Homo sapiens: one gene and its partner. The gene in region 1 interacts genetically with each later gene. Each region holds a gene or a part of one and is shown in the gene's direction. Other genes may lie near its edges.

What was found. Genes that interact genetically often act in the same process or in processes that back each other up.
Region 2: of SH2D3A (region 1) and MAPK8, changing one enhances a phenotype caused by changing the other (phenotypic enhancement), as found in Homo sapiens cells (one study listed by BioGRID).

The regions. Positions count from the first base shown.
Region 1 is NC_000019.10:6,764,419-6,772,186, reverse strand, and holds the start of SH2D3A (SH2 domain-containing protein 3A), read left to right. Parts: upstream 1-4,751; 5' UTR 4,752-4,800; intron 4,801-7,768.
Region 2 is NC_000010.11:48,435,645-48,439,860, forward strand, and holds the end of MAPK8 (mitogen-activated protein kinase 8), read left to right. Parts: 3' UTR 1-3,716; downstream 3,717-4,216. UniProt on the Homo sapiens protein: Serine/threonine-protein kinase involved in various processes such as cell proliferation, differentiation, migration, transformation and programmed cell death.

The DNA.
Region 1 (7,768 bases):
CCCTGCCCTCCCCACTCCCTCTCTCCCCCTCTTCACTGTGCTCCAGCCACACGGGCCTCTTCGCTCTTCCTCCAACATGCCAGGAACATACGGCCCTGCCCCAGGGCCTTTGCACGGGCTGTGTCCTCCACCTTAAGCAACTTCATGGCTAGCTCCCTCACCCCTACATGTCTTTGCTCAAATGCTACCTTCTCATGAGGTCTTCCTAAATCCCCTCATTTCAAATCACAGCCTTTTCCGCATTCCATTAGCTCTACCCACCTCCCTAGGTTAAGCCCTGATCTTTGTCCAACAAATCTGATTTTTTAAGTTATTTTTTTCCTTCCTTCCTTTCTCTCCCTCTTTCCCTCCCTTCCTTTCTTCCTTCCTTCCTTCCTTCCTTCCTTCCTTCCTTTCTTTCTTTCCTTTCTTTCTCTCTTTGTTTCTTTCTTCTTTTTTTTTTTTTGAGACGGAGTCTCACTCTGTCACCCAGGCTGGAGTGCGGTGGCGCAATCTCAGTTCACTGCAAGCTCCGCTTCCCGGGTTCACGCCATTCTCCTGCCTCAGCCTCCTGAGTAGCTGGGACTACAGGCGTCCGCCACCGCGTCTGGCTAATTTTTTGTATTTTTAGTAGAGACAGGGTTTCATCGTGGTCTCGATCTCCCGATCTCATGATCCGCCCGCCTCAGCCTCCCAAAGTGCTGGGATTACAGGCGTGAGCCACCGCGCCAGGCTTCTTTCTTCTTTTTTTTTCTTTTGAGACGGAGTTTCACTCTCGTTGCCCAGGCTAGAGTGCAGTGGTGTGATCAGCTCACCACAACCTCTGCCTCCTGGGTTCAAGCGATTCTCCTGTCTCAGCTTCCCAAGTAGCTGAGATTACGGGCATGCATCACCACGCCCAGCTAATTTTGTATTTTTAGTAGAGACAGGGTTTCTCCATGTTGGTCAGGCTGGTCTCGAACTCCTGACCTCAGGTGATCCACCTGCCTCAGCCTCCCAAAGTGCTGGGATTACAGGCGTGAGCCACCGCGCCCGGCTTTTTTTTTTTTTTTTTTTTTTTTTTTTTGACAGGGTCTCATTCTGTCACCCAGGCTGGAGTGCAGTGGCATGATCTCAGCTCACTGCAAGCTCTGCCTCCCAGGTTTTCCCTGACCTCAGCCTCCCAGGCAGCTGGGATTACTGGCACCTGCCACCATGCCCAGGTAATTTTTGTATTTTCACAGAGACAGGGTTTCAGCATGTTGGCCAGGCTGGTCTCAAACTCCTGACCTCAAGTGATCTGCCCGCCTTGGTCTTCCAAAGTGCTGGGATTACAGGCTTGAGTCACTGTGCCCAGGCTCTTTCTTCTGTCATCCAGGCTGGAGTTCAGTGGCATGATCATAGCTCACTGCAGCCTCAAACTCCTGGGCTCAAGTGATCCTCCCGCCTCAGCCTCCCAAGTAGCTGGAACTACAGGCTTGTGCCACTGTGCCTGGCTAATTTTAAATTTTTTTGCAGAGAGGGGCTTTTACTATGTTGCCCAGGCTGGTCTTGAACTCCTGGCCTCAAGCAATCCTCCCACCTCGGCTTCCCAAAGTACTGGGATTACAGACGTGGGCCATGGCACCCGCTCATCATTGTTTCTTTATTGTCTGTTCAAGAATTTATGTTTCTTTGGTTCACTACTGACCCCTCTCTTATGCAGCACCTGACACATAGGCATGCCCCTTAAATACCTGTTGAATGAATAAATAATTGAAAGCTCTATTGACTGCACCTGACATTTATCCCAAATCCATCCCTTTATCACCATGTCCATGGTCACCACCCAAATCCAAGCCACCATCATCCCTCTCCTTATAGACTACAATAGTGTCTTTTTTTTTTTTTTTTTTTGTCTTGCTCTATGGACCAGGCTGGAGTGTAGTGGCGCAATCTCGGCTCATTGCAACCTCTGCCTCCCAGATTCAAGTGATTCTCCTGCCTCAGCCTCCCGAGTAGCTGGGATTATAGGTGTCACCATGCGTGGCTAAATTTTTGTATTTTCAGTAGAGACAGGGTTTCGCCATGTGGCCCAGGCTGGTCTCAAACTCCTGGCCTCAAGTGATCCACCTGCCTCAGCCTCCCAAAGTGCTGGGATTACAGGCACGAGCCACTGTGCCAGGCCCAATAGTGTCTTTCATTAACTCATTCAACAAACATTTACTGGCTTCCCGGCCATTACCTTATCATTAGCTGAAATCATCTTCATGAGATTAGGTCTCTCTGCCCCCATCCCTAGCTTCCACCCCAGTAGAGTGTAAGCAGGCCCTCCCCCGTCCACCTAATACGTGGCCCTCATCATGGAGTTTCTTTTTAAATTATCGTTATTATTATTCTTAGGAGAAAGTTTCACTCTGGTTGCCCAGGCTAGAGTGCAATGGTGCAATCTCTGCCCACAGCAACCTCTGCCTCCCAGGTTCAAGTGATTCTCCTTCCTCAGCCTCCCTAGTAGCCGGGATTACAGGTGCATGCCACCACACACAGCTAATCTGCTCACAGCAACCTCCGCCTCCCAGGTTCAAGTGATTCTCCTTCCTCAGCCTCCCCAGTAGCTGGGATTACAGGTGCATTCCACCACACCCAGCTAATTTTGTATTTAGTGGAGACAGGGTTTCACCATGTTGGTCAGGCTGGTCTGGAACTCCTGACCTCAGGTGATCTGCCCACCTCGGCCTCCCAAAGTGCTGGGCCCTCTTTTTAAATTATTATAACCACGAGGAGGCGCTAGACCCCTTCCCTGAACATGCCCCTACCCTCTGACTGTACCAATACCAGACCGGTGAGGGATAAGGAAGAAACTTTCTTCCCCTCTTGAGCCTGGAGTCTCTTCCATATTTGCCAGGGCCAGTCGGGGGAGCCCAGTCTGGAAATTCCCTGCTTTGCAACCTACAGGCATCAAAACTTTTCATCCCCAAGCATCGTTGGCCCTCTAGGCCTCAATTTCCTCATCTGTAAAATGGTGGGTGAGTAACTTTCACCGCAAAGCAGCATCGTGGAGAAAGTGGGCATGCGAAGATTGAAAAGGAGGCAGACAGGATAAAGCTCCAGAGCTCCGGGTTTGAATTTCGCCTCTACCACTTACAAGCCAGGTTAACTTGGGCAAATGGTTTAGTTGCCCTGTGCCTCAGTTTCTCCATCTGGAAAATGGAAGTGATGAAAATACTACCTACCACCCTTACAGGGTGGTCTGTTTGAAAATTAAAATAGAGGCCTCATGCCTGTAACCCCAGCACTTTGGGAGGCCGAGGCAGGTGGATCACATGAGGTCAGGAGTTTGAGACCAGTCTGGCCGAGACCCCATCTCTACTAAAAATACAAAAATTAGCCTGTAATCCCAGCTACTCGGGAGTCTACAGCCGGAGAATCGCTTGAACCGGGGAGGTGGAGGTTGCAGTGAGCTGAGACTGCTGCCACTGCACTCCAGTCTGGGCAACGAGAGTGAAACTCCATCTCAAAAAATAAAATAAAATAAAATAAAGGCAAGTTGACAGAACAGCCCTTGTGTACAGTAAGTGCTCAATAAATGTTAGCTGCTGCTACTGCTTTTAAGACTGTGGTTACTGGGGCCAAGCACAGTGGTTCATGCTTGCTTGTAATCTCAGCGCTCTGGGAGGCCAAGGCAGGAAGTTCGCATGAGCCCAGGAGTTCCAGAGCCTGGGCAGCATAGTAAGACGCCACATCTACAAAAAATAAAATAAAATCAGCTGGGTGTGGTGGTGTGCACCTTTAGTCTCAGCTGCTTGGAAGGCTGAAGCGGGAGGATAGCTTAAGCCCAGGAGGTTGAGGCTACAGTGAGCTATGATCACCACTGCACTCCGGCCTGGGCAATATAGCAAGACCCTGTCTCTACAAGACAAGACTGATGTTAATATGAGGAACTCATCAATAAACGTGGCCAAAGAGTCCTCTCTCTTGCACTAGGTCCCTGTCACCTTTTCTCTTGTTCGTCTCCAGGCATCACGATGGAAGTCCCCCCCACCCTTCTTCCCACCTGGGAAACCACCTGAATGATTTGCCTTCCACCTCCACCAAAGTCCCGCCCCGCTCCAGCGTGCTGTCACTGAAGGAAGCTGTCGCGTTTTCCCGGACGTCTCTCCACAAAACCCGCCACCTAAATGGGGCTTCTTTCCGGAAAATCCGGGAGGGCGGTCTGGAGGAAGCGTACCCCTCCTTACGTCACAGCTGCCGCAGCTACCCCAGCCTGGCGTAAGAGCCCGAGGGAGTTGCCCTGCCCTGACCCGGAGCCTTGGCGGGGAGGGGAGAGAGGCACCCCACTCCACCCCGCCCTGGTCCCAAAGGGCCATGGGTGCTTGGGGCCGCCTGGGTGGAAGGGAGGGGCAGGGTTCTAAGGGGCGGGAACGTTGGGATGAAATTTCTTCTATTGCCCTAAGGGGCGGGGCTGAGAAGGAGGTGGCTGCGGGTGGGCGTAGTCATTCGGCGGTGGTCGTGGCTATATACAAGGGGAGGGGCCACTGGCAGGAAAGGATGCGTGGTGCTCCCCTAGTGGGCGGGGTCTATGGAGAAAGCGGTGCGATGCAGAAGGAGGCGTGGCTAGTAGCAAAAAAAATGGTTTTAAGGGGGCGGAGCAAGGGCCTGGGAAGTTAGTTTGAGGCGGGGCCCGCAGGGGGCGGGGTCTGCAGGAGGTGTGGTCAGGTAACTGGGCTGAGTTCCCACTAGGTGTGGTCTGGGAAGGCTGGGGCGGTGGCAAGGTGGAGGGCGGGGGTGACAGCAGCCCGGAGCCGCGGAGCCTCAGCTTCCGCCTGGACCCAGCCTCGTGGGAGCCCCGCGGGTCCTGCCCAGGTGAGTGGAGCCCCAGGGCAGATCCAGAACCAGGATTATTGGGATGGGGAGTCCTCTCTTTCCAGGTGGGGTCACCGGCTCGCAGGGAGGATCTGGGGTAGAAGAGGTCGCCTCGCGAATGAGAGGGTCGCTGTGCGTTACGCGTGTCGGTGTGCTCGGGCTCACCTGGGCGTGCCTCTCTAAGTGTATTTCCTGTGCAGCACAGAAAGCCATTGTTTCCATTTTTGCCTGAGTGATCCTCTTAAACGGCGAATCAGATCGGGCCCCTCCTTCACTTAAAACCCTTGGGTCATAGAGATTAAAATTCAAAGTCCACTAGTTTTTGCCTAGTCTCTCCTCCTGATCTCTCCAACCTCATTGCCCTCCTATCTACTCCTTCCTCATCGTATTCCGGCTACACCAGCCGCCTTGATGATGTAAAATGTAAAAAGCAAGTCCATCTCAGCTCCAGGCCTTTACCCTTACTGTACCCCTCACCCAGGCGACTCCTCCAAATCTTTGCCTAACTGCCTCCTTCTGTACTGAGGTCTCAGTTCCAATGTCACTTTATAGGAGAGGCTGTCCTGTCCAGCCTCCTCTATCACATCTCCCTGGCTTATCACTTTCATTGATAACTCTTAGAAATGGTCTGTCTTCTCCATTCATCTTGTGCTCGTTTGCAGTCTGTCTTGCGCAGCCGACTGCAAGCTCTGGAGGGCAGGGTGGTGCCGAGCTTTAATCTCCTTAGTCACTGTATCTCTAGGTCCTAGAACAGAGCCTGGTGCACAGCAAGTGCTCCAGCAATGGTCGTCCAACGTCAAAAGCGAGTCCTGCCTACATCTGTGTTTGTGTTGCCTGTGCTGGTGGTTCCCACCCTCCACGTCCTCCCCACACGTGGACACATGTTTATGATCCAACTGGAACATGAATAATCCCCTCTCTCCTCTCTCTATGCTTGGTCTGATTCCTGATTCTGCCCGTTTCTTCTCTTCCGTGCCCGAATAAATGATCCCAAAGGACTCAGAGGCAGGAGATGGCTTAGTTGGCCTTTGGCTGACCTATGGCCACCCTGTGTCCTCAAACTAACCAGAACCTTGCCATTGACTCAACTTCACTCTCACTAAGGGAGACACAAGACAGGAACTTGGGGTTGGGAAACTCTGCGACCGAGGCTAGCCCTGGTCCAGGTGACAAACAGGAAGTGCGCAGGCATTGCAAAGACACACCTGGCTTCAGGTATGCGGCACTGGCAGCTGGCTCCCTGCCCAGCGCTCCTCCCCTAAAGCCACCTAGGGCTGGTCTGGGAACTTCCTGCTGACTCAGGAGGCAGGAATTTCTCTGCAGACCCCACCAGAAGACTTTGCAGGGCTGCAGGGAGAGCTTGCAGGAGAGTAAGAAGCAGATTATCTTCTTCTGGACCATCCAGAGAAATCTCCCCCACCAGACACCTGAGACACACTGGCCCTGAGGCCTGTGAGATTATCGGGAAACTACCAAAATGTCTGAGATCCAAATTCAATCATCATGATAACCACATGTATGGGCTCCGAAATAGAAGGATCTGCAAAGGCAACATTGCTGTTTGCTGACATTGCTACAAAATGTGACCTTTTAAAAATCTTAACCCTGGGGTTACATTCTTTTTTTTTTTTTTTTTTTTGAGACGGAGTCTTGCTCTGTCACCCAGGCTGGAGTGCAGTGGTGTGATCTCGGTTCACTGCAGGGTCTGCCTCCTGGATTCAAGCGATTCTCTCTCCTCAGCCTCCTGAGTAGCTGGGACTACAGGCACACGCCACCATGCCTGGCTAATTTTTGTATTTTTAGTAGAGACGGGGTTTCACTGTGTTGACCAGGCTGGTCTCAAACTCCTGACCTCAGATGATCCACCCACCTCTGCCTCCCAAAGTGCTAGGATTACAAGAGTGAGCCACCGCGCCTGGCCCCCAGCGTTGCATTCTAAAGCAAAGAATAGGGGTTAGATCTGCACCTATCCTGAGAACCTCTGAGTGTGCGCATAGGTTGCCGAGAAGCCATGGATGTTTGTAAGTTAAATTCCCCCTGACTGGGATGTTTTTTCACCCAGAGTCACCTGGCACACTCCCCAGAATTCCTTCCAGACTTTACTCAATGAGACCTTTCCTGGTCACATGATCAAAAATGTTCACCCAGCCTGGGCAACGTGGCAAGACCCAATCTCTACATATATATTTAAAAATTAGCCAGGCACAGCCAGACGCAGTGGCTCATGCTGGTAATCCCAGTGCTTTGGGAGGCTGAGGAGGGTGGATCACCTGAGGTCAGGAGTTCGAGACCAGCCTGGCCAACATGGAGAAACCCCATCTCTATTAAAAATATTTTAAAAATTAGCCAGGCATGGTGGCACACACCTGTAGTCCCAGCTACTGAGGAGGCCGATGCACGAGAATTGCTTGAAACCAGCAGGCGGAAGTTGCAATGAACTGAGATCATGCCACTGCACTCCAGCCTGGGCAACAGAGTGAGACTTGATCTCAAAAAAAAAAAAAAAAAAAAAAATTAGCCAGGTACAGTGGCCCACGCTCATAGTCCCAGCTACTCAGAAGGATGAGGTGGGAGAATCACTTGAGCCCAGGAGGTCAAGGCCGCAATGAGCTGTGATTGCACCACTGCAGTCCAGCCTGGGCAATAAAGCAAGACTCTGTCTCAAAAAAAAAAGAGTGTTCACCCTAGCACCTGTACTTTCATTATATCCCATCCATGGTTTAGTTTTTTTGTCTAGCACTCACTCATGTATGCCATCATCTAGTTCTTTTCTGAGGTGCTGCTCCCCAGTAGAATGTCAGCTCCCAAGGACAGAGATTTCCATCTGTTTTGTTCAATGCTATGTCTCTAGGGCCTAGAACAGAGCCTGGGACCCCATAAGGTGCTGAATAAATAGGGGTTCAGTGAATTCATTAATTACATTTCTGCAAGATGGGGTGGCATGTTGTCATCTTCAGCCATTTTTTTT
Region 2 (4,216 bases), on another chromosome or scaffold:
AATTTTGGCAAAAGCCCCGTCATCTAAATGGCAGAATAACTCAGAGCATGTCTTTGAAGATGCTGGGCGTCTACCACCACCTTATGTCCCCACCCTACCCAACAAAAATAAGTAAAAAGAATATGGTGTATTCTACAAATTTGTGGCATGCTCAAAGTTTATGATCACATAAAGGCAAGAGGATACTTCATGAATAATACATTTCAATGCAAATAAACAGATGGTTCACTTCTACTAGCTATGAGCCTGTTTTTGTATACACTGAGTTAATCTACTCAGGCTGTAGGTCCCAGCAATGTTCTAGAGTCTGGTCTTTCCCTTTCCTGCAGCTTCGGGTCCTTGGACCTTTCCTGTTTCCTATTACTTGGAGTGTCTGTCAGTTGAGCACCAGTTGTTCTGGTGTTTCATTTGATTCTACTTGTAGCATAATCATTTATACGAGCTATTGGGAGGTTCCAAACCCTACCTAGATTTGTGTAGGTGATGTATCAAATGAGCAATATACCGTTCATCTGAAAATAGTAGCACACAGCCATATATAGGATATCATTTTCTAAGGACTGTTTCTTCACATTGAGCAGAGCAGGCATAAATGGTGGTTATTTAGTCTAAGTCTTTTATTTTTTTATACCTGATTTTCAACATAACACGCAATGTGGATGTCGAGTAGTGTTAAGAATGGTGCTGCTCCTGACAAGTGTATGTTAACTGTTTACATTTTCTATCTGTAGAATTATTTCTCTATTACTGAACTTTTCCTAAGTAAAATGTCTTTGAAGTCTCGTTATTTCTGAAATACGTTGTCTGTAATAGACCCAGGCACCTTTTAAATTATCTCTGGAACAAGAGGGATTTCATGTAATGAACTAGGAAATGCATACTCACATAAGCAACAAGGTTCTAGGCAGAAAGCCCCTTGGAATTTGTGACCAACAGGAGCAAGAACAGGTGCGGCTCAACATGCAATGTCTGAAAATTTGCTTGGCATTTTATTCATATATTTAGTGCAAAATTATTTTTGAGTGAGATATTTTACATCACTGTTAATGTGCAATATTTAAGATTAAAATACATTAGCTTTTTTATATACTTTGAAGTAGCAAGTTTGTTTTCGATGGCTTAGAGTCATGATTTCCAGCTTCCCAGCCTTTTTATCAGTCCCTTTTCTAATACAACAAGGTGCATTAATTTGATTAGGCAAATTAGAGTTCTAAGACACTTCTTGAATTGTAGACAGAAAATATTGGATTCACAATTTCAGCAGAAATTTGAGAATGAGTGTGTTTATATTAATTTCACAATTAGCTGTATTTTCTGTAGCATAGATTATGTCACTGTTGCACTTTCACAGCAGACATGCTTTCAGAAGGTTCTCATATTTTATGTTTGATTGCTGATAAGCCATCTCTATTGATACAGATTTTGGTTAAGTAAGGAAAACCAGGTGTGTGTCTGTATCATTTATTGTAAATGCCAGCTGCCACTTGCCAACCATCATGTTCAGTTCAATTCAAAGAAAACAAACTCTCATTACTTAGTGTAAACTAAAATACTTAACAAATTATATCCTAAAAACAAGGTCTCTTTGTTAAATGTTGCATGCCCTAGGTTTTAAATTACTACATCCAAATACAGTTTTCGTCTTAAATTTGTTAAGCTAAATATATGTTGGTTCTTTTTATTTTGGAATCCTTTAAGCATCTTAAACATTTTTTTTTTGAAGAGAAGTTACAAATAACATTTCTATCAGGTAGTACTTGTATGAAACCACCTTTCTTATTCTATAATTTTGATTTTTCAATTTTATATACTTAATATACTCACTGTCTTACTATCAGAAAGTTATTTTGACCAAGATTTTTATTATCTTCATAGATTCAGAAAGAGATGCTAATTCTGTACCAATGTCTTCCTGGTTACTATTCTCTTCCCTCTAATATATACTGGCCATTTGTAAAACCATTGTGTTGTTGGGATCACTTAGTTATACTATACGCAGATAGAGCATCTCAACTCTGTCATAGTGTTTGCTGAACAGTTTTCAGTGTCATGCACCTTTGGCTGCTAATTGTTCCTGACGTGCACTCTTCCGAGTTGGTAAAGGCACAGTGTGTTCATGCCAGACTTCTAAGAGAAACACCAGCCTCTTAAATCAGAAGCCTACACACAACCCCCTTAACAATCCAAAGAAGCTTGATGGTGTGCAAAGAAGCATCCTGCCAGCCTTGTCATTGTTCTGTTCTATGCTAATCCTGCTGTGTTGTCTAAAAGATGGAGGGAAGAGGACATCAGTGTCTGATAGTGAAATCATCAGCAGGAAAGTGAAGCTCTTTCCTTGGTTACAGATAAGACTTGGTTTACACTATTGGCCAGTATCTGCTAAACATATGAAGACTTAACTATTCAGTGTTGCCTAGGCATTCGCCTGCACAACATTTTGAGGTTAGAACATAGAATATTTTCAGAAATACTGTTGTAGTTTGTGAGTGTTGTTCATTAGTTACACATTAGCTATAGAGTGGATGCATGAAGCCCCATGACACCAGTAAACTTCTCTTACCAGTAGGTAAACCAAACACCATTCTGTCATTAGCAGCCCTCTTAAATGTTGCCTCTCCGTATCCTGTTGCATTTTTGTGTGCATTGTGTTTCTACTGATCTCTCTTAGGTTTTTACGGAATCAAAGGAAACTAATTTTTCCTTAATAGCAAGAAAGATGAAGAGGTAAAGGGCATTGAAGCAGAAATGTATAGTTTGGGGTACGATTAGAAAACTCGTAAGGAAAACAGAAGTCCTAATTTCAAACTGACTGCTCTTCGTTAAGTGCTCTTAAGGAGAGTCTAGTAACAGTAACACTTTCTGGCCATTTCTAGTTTAGATTCTCTTCGTTACTGAAACTTTTGAGAAATATTACCTGTGGATTAATTTTGCACAATGTTCTATTCTCATAATGACTTACAAATTAAACTAGGTTTTTATTGAACTACCTCACACTAATTTTCTATGCTTTCCCAAGTAAGCTGTTGCCCTGTTAGATCTTTACTGAGTGAATTATAAATGTGTGTTAAATACTTTCTAGCCAATGTTGACACAATACCAGTAAGTATGTAAAGTATATACCTTACATCAGTAAGAGACACGTGTAAAATCTTTGACTGTATGTCTTGCAAAATTGTGCTCGTTGACATTATTACTGTTTTTGTAAGTAGAAACCTGCTCGTGATATCGGTCCATTTACATTTTACAAAAGGAGTAAATCTTAGTAAAAATTTTACGAAGAAATAAATTACTTTTGTAGGCCCAATATTTGGTATATTTTTGAGAAGCTGTTAATCTTTTAGCTGAATAATGAAGTTAGACTGAATTACGTGTCTCCCTGGACTGTGACATCTATTTTCTCATTACAGTTTATCCTGGTCAGCAGGGTGTCACACCTGGAAACCTGAGTATGATAGCTGACATTTGCTTTTCTCCCTCTGCGATGTCATTCCTCCTCCATTCCTCTCCTTCCCTGTGTTCCGTTCCCTCTCCTTTCCTCTAGACAAAACAAAATGGGGCACTTTTTAGGGAATGCTGAGATCATTATTGTGGTTTTTCATCATTCATGCCCTAGTCATTAAACATGCACCACTGGAATGTAAACAATGTTATCTAGTATGTCAATTGGTTATAATATTTTAAATAAAAAAGAAAAAAGTGGTATGAAAATTATGAAATTAAGAGTTTTTTCATTGAAAACAAAATCTGTTTGTGGTAAAGTTTTTCTTGGCAATTTTAGGATTGTCCGTGGATTGGGATAAAAGGGGTCTTGCTAGGGCCGGTTTCTTAGATTTGGATTTTGTACAGATTGTAAAGAGCCTAAATGATCACGCTGATTATCTGGTTGATCTGGTCTTGGATTTCTGGTGTTTGAAATTGCTGGATAAACTTTATCTAAAAAAGGAACTTTGCTTCAATGCCCTTAACCTAGTTCTTGGTAGACATATGAGAGAACAGCCATCGTGACCACTTGGCAAAAATAAGTACTTAAAATTGGGGTCTGTTTCAAAACAAGCAAGAGGTTTTAGCTTTGACTGTTTCCAACTTTTGCCATGCTTATTTCCTCTTTGCCTACGTTGGGTCTGCTGCTGTGTGGGAATACAGGGTCCCTGCAGTACCTTCCCAGCCACTGTAATGACGCCACTCCGTCTTGCACAGTTCCTGCTCCAAATGACCT